Homo sapiens: one gene and its partners. The gene in region 2 interacts genetically with the main gene of each other region. Each region holds a gene or a part of one and is shown on either strand. Other genes may lie near its edges. The genes, in order: KAT6A, KAT8, ATG10 and KAT6B.

What was found.
Region 1: changes in KAT8 (region 2) and KAT6A together harm fitness more than expected from each alone (negative genetic interaction), as found in Homo sapiens cells (one large-scale study listed by BioGRID).
Region 3: of KAT8 (region 2) and ATG10, changing one enhances a phenotype caused by changing the other (phenotypic enhancement), as found in Homo sapiens cells (one large-scale study listed by BioGRID).
Region 4: changes in KAT8 (region 2) and KAT6B together harm fitness more than expected from each alone (negative genetic interaction), as found in Homo sapiens cells (one large-scale study listed by BioGRID).

Annotation. Positions count from the first base shown.
Region 1 is NC_000008.11:41,933,483-41,937,051, forward strand, and holds part of KAT6A (histone acetyltransferase KAT6A), read right to left. Parts: intron 1,386-3,569; coding exon 1-1,385. UniProt on the Homo sapiens protein: Histone acetyltransferase that acetylates lysine residues in histone H3 and histone H4 (in vitro). Component of the MOZ/MORF complex which has a histone H3 acetyltransferase activity. May act as a transcriptional coactivator for RUNX1 and RUNX2.
Region 2 is NC_000016.10:31,120,619-31,124,187, reverse strand, and holds part of KAT8 (histone acetyltransferase KAT8), read right to left. Parts: intron 1-3,569.
Region 3 is NC_000005.10:81,978,493-81,982,061, reverse strand, and holds part of ATG10 (ubiquitin-like-conjugating enzyme ATG10), read right to left. Parts: exon of another isoform or gene 3,213-3,569; intron 2,563-3,212; exon of another isoform or gene 2,384-2,562; intron 1,155-2,383; exon of another isoform or gene 645-1,154; intron 1-644. UniProt on the Homo sapiens protein: E2-like enzyme involved in autophagy. Acts as an E2-like enzyme that catalyzes the conjugation of ATG12 to ATG5. ATG12 conjugation to ATG5 is required for autophagy. Likely serves as an ATG5-recognition molecule. Not involved in ATG12 conjugation to ATG3.
Region 4 is NC_000010.11:75,025,588-75,029,156, forward strand, and holds part of KAT6B (histone acetyltransferase KAT6B), read left to right. Parts: intron 1-2,901; coding exon 2,902-3,569. UniProt on the Homo sapiens protein: Histone acetyltransferase which may be involved in both positive and negative regulation of transcription. Required for RUNX2-dependent transcriptional activation. May be involved in cerebral cortex development.

The DNA of each region.
Region 1 (3,569 bases), on a different chromosome or scaffold from region 2:
CCCACAGATGCTGCCGCCCATCGTGGAGTCGTAACTGCTTGGGTTCTCATAGTTTTCAGTGGTGCTCTCAATGCTGCCCAGGTCACTGAAGCCGCTGTCCACCACCTGCTGAGAGTGGTCTGATACGGAAGGCACATCCATCATGGGGCTGGTCTCCATGTTCTGCATAGAGGGTGCGGACAGGGATCCTTGTTCTGGGCTGATCTGGGTGTAGCCACTCTCAAGGGCAGGCACGTTGGGACTGCTGACCGAACGGACTGACTGGCTGGGGTGAGACTGAACGGAGGAGATAGGGCTATTATGTTCTGACGCATGACAGTCTTCAACCATGGACATCTGAGGGTCCTCGTCAGCCTGGGTGTAACTCTGCAGGGTCTGACACGCCGCAAGAGTTTCCTCACAGTCCTGGTAGGCGCCCTCATGCTCACTGCTTTCTTCTTGAGTCAAAGACTGCACTGCCTGTACAGTTTCCAGATCCAGCTCACTATGAGGAATCTCTTCCTCCTCTTTTAATTCGATTAACTCTTCCTTAGTGTGGGAGTCTTCTTCGTGGTCGTCCTCAGACCCAGCCATCTGCTCTGACACCACGGACGTGTCATGGGAAGGCTGCTCCTCTTCGGAATCCAGCTCGGTTTCCTCTTTATCCTTTATCTTTTCCCTACTCTTCTGCATATTAGCATCTAAAAAAGACTCTTGAACACCAGGCTCCTCCTTGACATCTTCCCTCGTGGGCTGTTCCTCTAGCTCCTTTTTCTTTGTGGACTCCAGGTGGCCATCATCCTCATCATCAGCGTCGTGGTCGTCATTCTGGGCAGTCTCTGCAGCTGCATCTTCCTCCTCCTCTGGCTCTGGCTCCTCTAATTCCTGCTGCTCCTCCTCTGACTGCCTCTGCTCCTCTGAGACACGGGGCTTCTCTTCTTCCTCCTCCACCTCAGGCTCCTTGGTTTCGGTCTCAGGACTATTGCTGCTGTCTGCTGGAGAGGCTGCTGGGACTTCACTGCTGGCTGCATCCTCTTCCTCACCCTCTTCAGCCTCTTCTGCCTCTGCTTGCATCTCCTCCTCCTCCTTCCTCTCCTCGGGTAGGGGCATGTCTTCTTTTGGCTCAACAGTTTCTTCACTCTCCTGGATCTTGGGTTTACGTCCAGCTTTAGGAATGGAAACGATGGGCTCAATGACGCATGCTTGAGTAGAAACTGGCATGATTTCCCGACTCAACTTAAATCCTGGTTTTCGACCAGGTCTTTTCTTCCAGTGGATTGGTTTGCGGCTCTTGCCTTTGGGCCATCCCTTTTTCTTTTTCAAAGGTGTGGATGTATCTGGCTCAAGAGGAGAATTCTTCACATCACGTTTTCGCAAAAGAGATACTGGCTTTAAGATAGGAGTGTCTATACAGGAAGGAAAAAAAACAAAGACAGGTTACAAGGTCTTACATTTTCTAGTTCCTTCTTCCAAGACTAGCATATACAATAGAAATGACTTTATTAATCATTACTTTTATAAACTCCTGATTGTCTTCATTTTAAAGTTAAGAACCTAGAGGATAAAACTAATTAGTGACATATTCTAAGTCACACAGTGAATTGGCAGAACTATGAAAGAATCCTGGTCAACATTATGTTATCAGACACTAGTCAGAACCAATTCAAGACTACCATCATCAGCTGCATGTCTGTGGGAAGTTACTCTACATTTCAGTTTCATCATCTGTAAAATGGAGATGAACTTTATAAAGAGGCAAATAAGTAGTAAGCAGTACTTTTATCAAGTTGTCTCTACTAAAAGTTACAAATTAGCTTATTTCCTCTTTTTTTTTCTGCTTGTGATTTACTTTATCTCTCGGATTTTCTTACTTTCCACAAATCATCACTTCAGGTAGTATGATGAGCCAATTACTCTAGGCCATGACTGAGCCATCGTATGTGAACAGTTGTTCAATTAATGTTGTGTTTGTATGGGAATAGCTGCAAAGCATTTATTTAGTCCTAGACAAAAACTGACATTTAGACTTAGACAAACAAGAAAAAATTAAAGCACCAATTACATTCATTAGAAATAAATTTTATATTATTAGCATTTTAAAAAAACTATGGTAAACTATACGTAACATAAAACTTAAAATTTTAACCATTTATAAGTGTTAAGTTCAGTGGCATTAAGTACACTCACATTGCCTATTAATTTTTAAAGAATAAGAATACCAAGACAAGAACATGATGCAGTGGGGGCACGGCTAAAAAGGCACAGTTAGTAGTAGTAACTTGAAAGTCAACAAAGGAAATGGCTGCATCAGCAAAAATCTAAGTCCATGGGAACTTAATCAGGGGTACTATTTTAGTGTACAATGATCTAAGACAGAATATAAAGTGCTAAATTTACAAAATAAATTTTTAGTTTCCTAGTTATGTTATTTCAAAACATAGCAAGTTAAACTCTGTAGAATCATTCATGATAGAGCAAAGAACACATTCATCTTATCACTATATTAAAAGTATTTGTTGGCCAGGCAGGGTGGCTCACACCTGTAATCCCAGCACTTTGGGAGTCCAAGGCGGGTGGATCACTTGAGGTCAGGAGTTTGAGACCAGCCTGGCCAACATGGTGAAACCCCGTCTCTACTAAAAATACAAAAATTAGCCAGGCATGGTGGCGTGCACCTATAATCCCAACTACTTGGGATGCTGAGGCACGAGAATCGCTTGAACCCGGAGGTGGAGGTTGCAGTGAGCTGAGACTGTGCCACTGCACTCCCACCTGGGTGACAGAGGGAGACTCCATCTCAAAAAAATAAAAAATAAAAAATAAAAAAGTATTTGTTATATAGAAAATATGAGAATGGAGAAAATGTAAGTTTATCTTCTAGACTTGAAACTGACTGAATTTTTAAAAGAATTAAAAAGTTCAACCAGTTAATGCATAAAAGCTAAAGGTTTATGTACCAAGACTGGACAAGTAGATTTCTTCAAATTTGCCCAACAAAGTAAAAATGCTCATTCTGAGCCCATGCGAGATAAACACACTGCAGATGCAGGCAGCATGAGACACTGGCAAAACTTTAGGCTAGGGTGAAAAAGACTTGTTTCTGACCTGGCTCATATATATGAGACCTAGTTTCAGTGTCTCTAGAGAAGAAATGACAACTAGGCTGCTTTAAAAGTAAATAGTTGGATTTGTATCTATACTATAAAATTTATTTTGAGTTATTGTTACCATTTGTGAGAAATTTACTACTAGTTGGGTAAGACACATTAGAGATACAATTCAGGAAAGACTCCTGAACAGATGTGACACAAGTTCCAATTTACATGAATCTGCTCTTTCTGGAGAATTGTCTTCTTAGCATTCACTCATTTAACACTACTTACTGAGCGCCGGGCTTAAGCACTCAGCATACAGCAATGAGCAAAACAGACTAAGTCTAGAGAATGCACATTCTAGTGAAGGGTTATTACATCTTCCTGATGCTAAGTCCAACTCTCCCATTAACTAAAGATTCTGATAAAGGCTTAGAAAGGATTGGGCAAAAAAGAACAGTTGCCTAATAGTAAGATATTTTCTGCAGAGGCAAATTA
Region 2 (3,569 bases):
AACCACTGTAAAGATGAGGAAGAAAGATTTTCCTCCTCACACATCTCTTTAAAACACATTTCCCAATTCTCACAAAATACAGTACTCTTCTGCAAATGCAATAAAGAACTACAAAAACACTACTTTTCTTAATTGTTGCAATTTATTTAGAATTAAACATTAATTAGGCTCTGAAGAACCTTGCTGATTGTTAACTGGATGATTGTTTCATTACCTATTCTTTGATTTTATCACCACTGGCCCGTTATCCACCCTGCTGGTTGCCAACTCAGAGGTATGTCTTTGTTGAGTGCAAAACAGTTGAGGAATTAATCTTAGATCTACACTGTCCAATAAAGTAGCCACTTGTCACATAGGGCTATTTAAAATTATACTCAGCTAAACGTGGTGGCTCACGCCTGTAATCCCAGCACTTTGAGAGGCCGAGGTGGGAGGACCACTTGAGGCCAGGAGTTCCAGACCAGTCTGGCCAACATGGCGAAACCCCATCTCTACTAAAAATAAAAAATAAAAAATAGCTGGGTGTGGTGGCACACGCCTGTAATCTCAGATACTTGGGAGGCTGAGGCACAAAAATTGCTTAAGCCAGGAAGGCGGAGGTTGCAGTAACCCAAGAGCTCGCCACTGTACTCCCGCCTAGGTGACAGAGTGAGACTCTGTCTCAAAAAATGAAAATTTTGGCTGGGCACGGTGGCTCACACCTGTAATCCCAGCACTTTGGGAGGCCGAGGCAGGCGGATCAGTTGAGGTCAGGAGTTTGAGGCCAAACATAGTGAAACCCTATCTCTACTAAAAATACAAAAATTAGCCAGGCATGATGGTGCGTGCCTGTAGTCCCAGCTACTTGGGAGGCTGCGGCAGGAAACTCACTTGAATCTGGGAGGCGGAGGTTGCAGTGAGCTGAGATCGCACCACTGCACTCCAGCCTGGTTAACAGAGTGAGACTCTGTCTCGAAAAAATAAAAATAAAATTTTTTTAAAAAATGATAATTAATTTTTTTTTGAGACAGTCTTGATCGGACACCCAGGCTGGATGGAGTGCAGTGGCATGATCTTGGCTGACTGCAACCTCCATCTCCTGGGCTCAAGCGATTCTCCTGCCTCAGCCTCCTAAGTAGCCGGGATTACAGGTGTGCACCACCACGCCCGGCTAATTTTTGTATTTTTAGTAGAGATGGGGTTTTGGCCATGTTGGCCAGGCTGGTCTCAATCCCCTGACCTTAAGTGATCCACCCACCTCCGCCTCCCAAAGTGTTGGGATTACAGGCGTGAGCCACTGCACCCATAATTTAAAAATTTTTTTTTTTTTGAGACGGAGTCTCACTCTGTCACCCAGGCTGGAGTGAGCCCAGGATCTCGGCTCACTACAAGCTCCACCTCCCGGGTTCACGCCATTCTCCTACCTCAGCCTCCCGAGTAGCTGGGACTACAGGTGCACGCCACCACGCCCGGCTAATTATTTTGTATTTTTCAGTAGAGATGGGGTTTCACCATGTTAGCCGGGATGGTCTCGATCTTCTGACCTGGTGATCCACCCACCTTGGCCTCCCAAAGTGCTGGGATTACAGGCGTAAGCCACCGCGCCCAGCTAAAATTCTTAATTCTTCGTCACACTAGACACATTTCAAGTGCTCAACAGCTACATGTGGCTAGTGGCTACGGTACTAGATAGTACAGCTATAGAACATTTCCATTACAATAGGAAGTTCGATTCGGCAGTTTAGACCTTGAGGAGTTCTTCCAGTTTAGGGTATTTCAATTTTTTAAATCACACCACAGTAGGAAGTACACTTGGCACTGTAACATGTCTGTATATACACACAAGTATGTGCTAGGATCATCGGGAAGGTAAGGCTGGAACAAGAGGAATCCTGCACACTTTTATTGGGTGTGAAATAAAAGCTTCTCAAAACAATACCTACACTTAATAAAGTGCAACACCCTGATTTTTCTATCTTATCCACTTTCTTTCTTCCATTTAAAGAAATTTAAATGTTGGGCTTGCCCACTAACTCATGTACTCAGAAGGATGAAGCTGCAATAGCTGAAAGTAACAAATGTCTGGGTGTCTGGAGACTTTGACAAATCTTGCTCTGGTGTGCACTCCTGATTTTTATAAATTTAGAAACTGAGACTTGGTCGGGCGCAGTGGCTCACACCTGTAATCCCAGCACTTTGGGAGGCTAAGGCAGGAGGATCGCTTGAGACCAGGAGTTTGAGACTAGTGTGGGCAACATAGCAGATCCCGTCTCTACAAAAAAATAAAAAATTAGCTGGGCATGGTGGCACGTGCCTATGGTCCCAGCTACTCAGGAGGCTGAGGCAGGAGGATTGCTTGAGCCCAGGAGGTTGAGGCTGAAGTGAGCCATGATTGTGCCACTGCACTCAGCCTAGACGATAGAGTAAGACGCTGTCTCAAAAAAAAAAAATAACAATAATATGTACAATTATTAAGTATCAATACAAGAAAAAACCAAGGCAGGTACAGGGATGCACTCCTGTAGTCCCAGCTACTTAGAAGGCTAAGGCAGGAAGAACATTTGAGCCCAGGAGTTCAAGTCCAGCCTGAGCAACACACCAAGACTCCCGTCTCTTAAGAAAAAAACCAAAATCATTGCTAAGGCCTCTGGCTCTGAGGTAGCACAATTTAGCTGGTTGATCAAATTCCTGTCTGGGTCCCTAAACTTATCTGTAGCTCTTCTGCATGCTTACTTCACAGGCCTACTGTGAAATGTCAGTGAGGTCATGTATTAAAACACTTAGCTTAGGCCGGGCGCAGTAGCTCACGCCTGTAATCCCAGCACTTTGGGAGGCCGAGGTGGGCAGATCACCTGAGGTCAGGAGTTCGAGACCAGCCTGACCAATATGGCGAAACCTCGTCTCTACTAAAAATACAAAAATTATCCGGGCGTGGTGGCAGGTACCTGTAGTCCTAGCTACTTGGGAGGCTGAGACAGGAAAATTGCTTGAACCCAGGTGGCGGAGTTTACAGTGAGCCGAGATCATTCCACTGTACTCCAACCTGGGCGACAGAGCAAGACTCCGTCTCAAAAAAAAAAACAAAAAACAAAACACACACACACACACACACACACACACACAAAAACCATTTAGCTGAATACTTCTGCTCACCGGCTAACAAGTGTTTGGCATTATTATTCTAATTCCAGCCCACCGTTTTACTGGCTGTGTGACCTTGGGCATGTTACTTAATCTCTCTCAGCCTGCTTCCTCACCTACCAAAAAAGTAACTATTCCTGTGTGTTGAATTGTTGGGAAGGATTTGAGGAGCTTATACATATACAGCACTTGGCAGGGTGCTTGGCTATAGCAACTGCCGAATAACATTCTCGTCTTTCCCACTGAACTTCAAGTCATTTTTTCTACTAAGACACAGCTACTAGGAGACAAAAGAGGCTACCAGTGCCGGAGGCCTGAGTTCTAGTCCCAGCTGTGCCATTTCCTTGCTGTGAGACTGCAGCGAAGCCCTTACCCTCTGTCTGTTTTCTTACCTATGAAAAGTAAGTAAGAGGAAGTAGGTAAAGTCCCTGACACACTACAGGAGCTTA
Region 3 (3,569 bases), on a different chromosome or scaffold from region 2:
GCAGAGACTAAAGATTGGAAAAATAGAATAATTTTCTGTTTTTCCAAGTGAGGGTAGTCTTTCCAAACTGTAAGTTAGCCCTTAGACTAGAAGGATAGAAGAAGCTTATTCTGCTGCTGTTCAAATATATCTTTCCAGAAAAGCAGCCTTAGTGAATTCTAACACTGTATATAATCATTGTTTAAATGATCCTTTTTAATTGAAAACAATTTTTTCACTACCACTCTCCATACTGTTTAATGTGATTTTTAATCTAATGTGTGTAGAACTAATTCTTTGTTATTGTTTTAGTTGGAGACGTTGATTTGATGAATCTATAAATCAATGTACATCAAAGTCATAATAGGACTAAAACACTATAAGAAATATAACTGAATTTCCCAGAACTTAAGATCATTTACAAAAATGTGATTACCACAGAACATGCGATGCATACATTTAAACATTAAAAATCATTTTTGACTAATAAAGTAGGCAATTTCCTGAATACTTGTCCCTCCTAGCAACAATTCCACATTATTTATAACTCTAAGTGTAGACTCTTTTTTAAAAAACATGCACTATCAGGTAGGAGAGTTAAACATCAACCCACTACTTTTATGGCAATTTGGCTTGAATTGATTCAGATTAATTTAATCACTTACCTAGCAAGGTCCTTAGGCAGTGGTCCTCAAATTTTAGACAGCAAAGAAGCACCCACAGTGCAAATTCAAATGTGGAATCCTAGGCCTTGGCCAGAAAAATAACCTGATTCTGAAGACCCAAAATAATTACTTTTAATTAGCACCTGGGATACTTTCAAAGGGAATCATGCTAAAAGATTAGCATGATCCCTAGACAAAAGATGAATCACTTTGACAGGGCTGGTAAAAGACCTGGATTTCAAGACATTTGGCAGCCTGGGTGGGACACAGAAGGCATGGCCCTGGGCAATCCAATAAAATAGCACAGAGACACATCAGAAGAGAAGTCGTATCAGTCCTAACAACAGATGACCAGCAGGCTCAATTCTCCCTCCTTGCCTTCCCATTGGAATACATATTCCAAATCAAAGTTTAAATGAGAGGCAACACTGTACCTGGCTGGAAATGAGGAATCTCTGTTGGTAGCTGAGGCTTGCTCTGACCTCTCTATCACTAGGTCAGGGGAAAGAGGGTCATTTCACTCTCTCCCATTCCCTTCAGAGAAACAGATCCTGAGTTGCCCCTCCCCTCCTGGTTTCTAGCTCCACTGGTAATTCTCTTTCAAGGCAGTTCTCTCCCAGTAGTGCAGTGTGCATGGCCAGATGTGGAAGGTAAAGCCCTGAGGTGCACTGAGTACTGTGCAGCGAGCGACAGGTAGCTGCAGGAACAGAATGAGCTCTCAGCATAGTACAGTCTCACCACTAACACCCCAAAAAACTAAAAAAAAAAAAACTATAAATTATTTCAAATCACACAAAAACACTCCCCTCATTATAGTTACAGGACCGAAAGATTCAACACTAGGAAAGGAAGACCTCTCCTAAGTATAGAAAATGATCTATCCTTCATAAATTTCGTTGTACCCATTCATCTGCTTTCCAAGCTAACATAAAGAGGAAGATTCCTCCAGCTTCCAAGTGTAGTGAGAGAGACGAAGGAACACTTGGTCACTCTGACCAGTCAACATGCCCCTCTTTTGTCAAGGTAAGTAAACCAAAAACATTAATAACAACACAAGACCTTTAAGAAGCTCTTGCATAAGAAAAGAGGGGAACTACCATAAACAGGAAGAGGGAAAGCTTGCTCCTGTAATGGACTTACACTAGGAATATGGAAATCAAACCGAGGAATTATCTACTCTATGTTCCCAATTTTAAAAAGAAAAAGAGAAAGGGAAAGACCTCTAAAAGCAAGAGATGAGGAAGGAAAAACAGCTGAGATGAAAAAGGAAACTGGATAAGAAAAAACTGGAAGGAAATTCAAACACGTAACAGTAGAGATAAAAATTCTACATTCAAGGCAACAGAGAGATGTATAGAAGCTGGAAAAAAATCACATTCGTGTTTCAGTGTATAAGCACATAAGATCCTCTCCAAACACACAAAAGAAAAAAGACCATGATGAAAATAATGCATATTGTTTGATGGAAGGACAAAGAACACAGGTCCAACCTACAAATAACTGGAATTTCTGAACTACAATCATAAGCAAATGTACAACTGAAAAACTGTTCTAAGATGGAAAAAAAAAAAGATTTAAAATATTTACCTATAAATTGAAAGAATTCACCATGTTTCTAAAAAAAACAAAGCTGCTGGAAAGAAACTTATGCCTAAACATAGCCTACAGGAATATCTTAATTTAAAGACTAGAAAGAAAAAAAGATGCAGGCAAAAAAAAAAAAAAAAAGGTTTACCTACAATTAGCAAAAATCAGGGTAGCCTCTGCCATCTTCACCCACTGCAACAAATGCCAGATGATAGAGCAATGTCTGCAATGTCTGGGGATTTGATTTACACTTCGTATCTTAGCATCTATAACAGATAGGCAAACAGTAAACATTTTTTTTTTGAGACGGAGTGTCGCTCTGTTGCCCAGGCTGGAGTGCAGCGGTGCTATCTCGGCTCACTGCAAGCTCCGCCTCCCGAGTTCACGCCATTCTCCTGCCTCAGCCTCCCGAGTAGCTAGGACTACAGGGGCCCGCCACCACGCCCAGCTAATTTTTTGTATTTTTTAGTAGAGACAGGGTTTCACCGTGTTAGCCAGGATGGTCTCGATCTCCTGACCTCGTGATCCGTCCATCTCGGCCTCTGGAAGTGCTGGGATTACAGGTGTGAGCCACCGTGCCCAGCCAGTAAACATTTTTTTTTAAGTTGTAAATGAATAAAAGAAAAATTCAGACCAGGCACCGTGGCTCACGCCTGTAATCCCAGCACTTTGGGAAGCTGAGACAGGAGAATCACCTGAGGTCAGGAGTTCAAGACCAGCCTGGCAAACATGGCAAAATCCCTTCTCTACTAAAAATACAAAAATTAGCCAGGTGCAGTGATGTGCACCTGTAGTCCCAGCTACTCCAGAGGCTGAGGCAGGAGAATCACTTAAACCCAGGAGGCGAAAGTTGCAGTGAGCTAAGATTGTGCCACTGCACTCCAGCCTGGGCGACAAAGCGAGACTCCATCTTAAAAAAAAAAAGAAAAATTCAAAAATTTGAATGGACTTATTCTATACACCTCTTCTCATTTATAGTACCTTTCTTCAACTTTCAGGCCTGTTCACTTCTTGGACCTTTCTTACACAAACTGATGTACACTTTGCAAGGCCGAGGTAGGAGGATCACTTGAGGCTAGGAATTCAAGGTTGCAGTGAGCTATGACCGTGACACTGCCCTTTAGCCTGGGAGACAGCAAGATCCTGTCTCTAAAACAAACAAACAACAACAAAAAAAACCACAGATCTATATGACATCCAATCTTTCTGATACCAGTATCATTACTTTTATCAAAAGATAATTTTTTAATAAAACTCTGCAAGCACATAAGAAAAAATGTTCCACCACTGATGACAATTTGAGCTGATCCACAGCTCAAACTCTCTTGCTGCCTTTGA
Region 4 (3,569 bases), on a different chromosome or scaffold from region 2:
AGTTATTTCTGAAATCAAGGTATATATTATTATCAGTGTGAGCATTGAATGGAATCGTTTCTTTTTTCCTGGAAAACAAATATTAGTAAATCAATAGTACATTTTATAATCAGTAGTGTCGTAGTATATACTACTATAAAGATTCATCTAAACTAAGCTGGGCATGATGGCTTACACCTGTAATCCCAGCACTTTGGGAGGCTGAGGCAGGTGGATCACTTGAGCCCAGGAGTTTGAGACCAACCTAGGCAACATGGCAAAGCCCCTACTCTAAAAAAAATACAAAAATTAATCAGATGTAGTGGTGTGCACCTGTAGTCTCAGCACTTTTGGAGACTGAGGCAGCTGGATCACTTGAGCCCAGGAGTTTGAGACCAGCCTGAGCGACATGGCAAAACCCCATCTCTACAAAAGATACAAAAATTAGTCAGCAGTGGTGGTGTGTGCCTATAGTCCCAGCTACTTGGGAGGCTGAGGTGGGAGGATCACCTGAGCTCAGGGTGAGCCATGATCGTGCCACTGCACTCCAGCCTGGGTGACAGAATGAGACCCTTTCTCAAAAAAAAAAAAAAAAAAAGGAACCATCTAAACTTACCCACACATCAATATTAGCTTTGATAATATTGCATAACATAAAAATCAGTAAACTGACTTTCCTTTTAAGTTGACAGGGACACCTCTACCCCATCCTCTAAAAAATACACTGAACACCAGTGAATCGTCTTTAAAAGCACCCATCCTTGCCTGTCAGGTTGAGAACGTGTGCTCCCAGCTGAATCATGAGGGTTTATGGTATACTCTCTCTATTCCCTGGCCAAGATGACTCTATTCAGAACTTACTTTAATCTGGGGAACAGGCCATCTCATTTCCCTGGGAACCACAGGATCACTCTAGCTTTTGAAAAGCCACAGTTTTAAGAACATATGCAAGCATCTTCTTGATTTTCTTAGTTCACAGAAATGCTATTCCTGCATACAGTATTTTGCTGAAGGAATGACTTCTTACCCTGGGTATAGAGAAACCAAGCCTTATTCTTTGGGTTTTTTTTTTTTAAACAAATAACAAACTGCAGTGAGCGATCATTTTGTGTGTGAAAATGAGGTTTATTTCCCCTTCTTGGCTGTCTTCTCATATTATGCCTGATTCCTTTCAGGATGTCCTTCTTTCTTAAAAATAATTGTCAGAAAGCTCATCTTCTGATTTTGGGAGGTGTTCCAACAAAAGCCGGTAGGTCCAGTAGCACGTAGAATAAGAATGCAGAATCCAGCCAGGCATGGTGGCTCATGCCTGTAATCCCAGCACTTTGGGCGGCCGAGGTAGGCAGATCACCTGAGGTCAGGAGTTCAAGACCAGCCTGACCAACATGGTGAAACCCCATCTCTACCAAAAGTACAAAAAAATTAGCTGGGTGTGGTGATGCATGCCTGTAAGTCCCAGCTACTTGGGAGGCTGAGGCAGGAGAATCGCTTGAACCTGGGAGACAGAGGTTGCAGTGAGCCGAGATCATGCCACTGCACTCCAGCCTGGGCAACAGAGCAAGACTCCGTCTCAAAAATAAAAAGAATGTGGAATCCGGGGGCACTGGCATGGCTATTACCTGCCATTGTGAATAGAAATGTCCTGAGATGACTCTTAACTCGGGCATGGTACTCGGCACTTCTCAAGGAAACATTCTACATCACATATGTGTTCTTTTCAGCTGGTCGGTTTGAATGTAATACTTGCAGGTAAGTTTATCTGTAATCCTTTTATTACCTAAATCAGCCAGTGCTTACTCTGCTGTCCACCAGTTGGACTAGAACTCACTCTATTCTGGCAGAAGGGATATCTGTTTTATGATGATTGTGAGATCTTATTTTTATTCTCCAAAATAGAGTTTCTAATAAGACTATTGTTCTATATAAAGCTTTTCCTTTAAATTGACCACTGATTCTAGAAGATTGGTGTAATCTAAAGATCTTAAGAATACTTGGGTGCTTCATGCATATATTTATTAATATATATTTATTAATATGTATATAGCTATTCATCTGCTTGTATAAATATGTACATATTTACATTTATATTAACATGTGCATATAGGTTCAGTAAAAAGCTCACCTGAACTGAAATGAACTTCACAATTATGGTTTGTTTCTAAGTGTCTTTAATATGCAAACCTTACATCAGCAACATATTGATCCAGAATTCAGTGTGGACAGAATTAGTGTTAAAAAGAATACCTGTATTTTAAATGTTCAGGAATTTGCTAGTAATTACATTGTAGTTTGTATCATGCAAAAATGATGATCCTAAAAATGATGATTACAAATGCATTTGTTTTGGGTATTTAGTTATTTACTGATTTGTTTCAGAGGTACACAGCTTATTTTTATGCCAGAGAGAACATTCAAATCAAAGTAAATAAATCATGTCTTCCAAGATCATTTACATCCTATAAATGTCCACAAACAGAGGTTTACTTTCTCTAGGTAGATATGAGAGTTAAGGCTTCTAGTCATTTTTCCAGGACAGTAATGATTTGTATATAAGCTAGCATTAATTCCTTTCCCCTATATTTCCTAATTTGTAAATGTTCAAATTGATTTTTTTTTTTACACTGTGGAACTCTGGGCTTTTGCATCAGAGAATGTCTTGTTCATTAAATTCAAATAAGCACATTAGCATTGCCTATATCCATGTGTTCCCAATATGTTACTCTCCCAGGCCTAGGTTATTTACTTGGTTTATAACACAATATTATTACACATTAGCCTTGATTATGTCTTTACCATCAACTTTTAACATGCCAAATTGAAAGCAGTGTTTGCTAATTAATTTAGAGGAATGAATTCAAGTTGCCCATGGTTATGCTTTCTAAGACTGTTTTTTTTCCTTCCCGTTTTTGTCTCTTCACTAAGACAATATGAATGATGATTCAAGTAACTTGAAAGAAGGCAGTAAAGACAATCCCGAACCTCTAAAGTGCAAACAAGTGTGGCCAAAAGGAACAAAGCGCGGTCTATCTAAGTGGAGGCAAAACAAAGAGAGGAAGACCGGATTTAAACTGAATTTGTACACCCCGCCAGAAACACCCATGGAGCCTGACGAGCAGGTAACAGTGGAAGAACAGAAGGAGACTTCAGAAGGAAAAACCAGCCCCAGTCCCATCAGGATTGAGGAGGAGGTCAAGGAAACTGGGGAAGCCCTGTTGCCTCAAGAGGAAAACAGAAGGGAAGAAACATGTGCCCCTGTAAGTCCAAACACATCACCAGGTGAAAAACCAGAAGATGATCTCATCAAACCTGAGGAAGAGGAAGAGGAGGAGGAGGAGGAAGAGGAAGAAGAGGAAGAAGAGGAAGGGGAAGAAGAAGAAGGAGGAGGAAATGTAGAAAAAGATCCAGATGGTGCTAAAAGCCAAGAAAAAGAGGAACCAGAAATCTCCACGGAAAAAGAAGACTCTGCACGTTTGGATGATCACGAAGAGGAGGAGGAAGAGGATGAAGAGCCATCCCACAACGAGGACCATGATGCCGATGACGAGGATGACAGCCACATGGAGTCTGCCGAAGTGGAGAAGGAAGAGCTG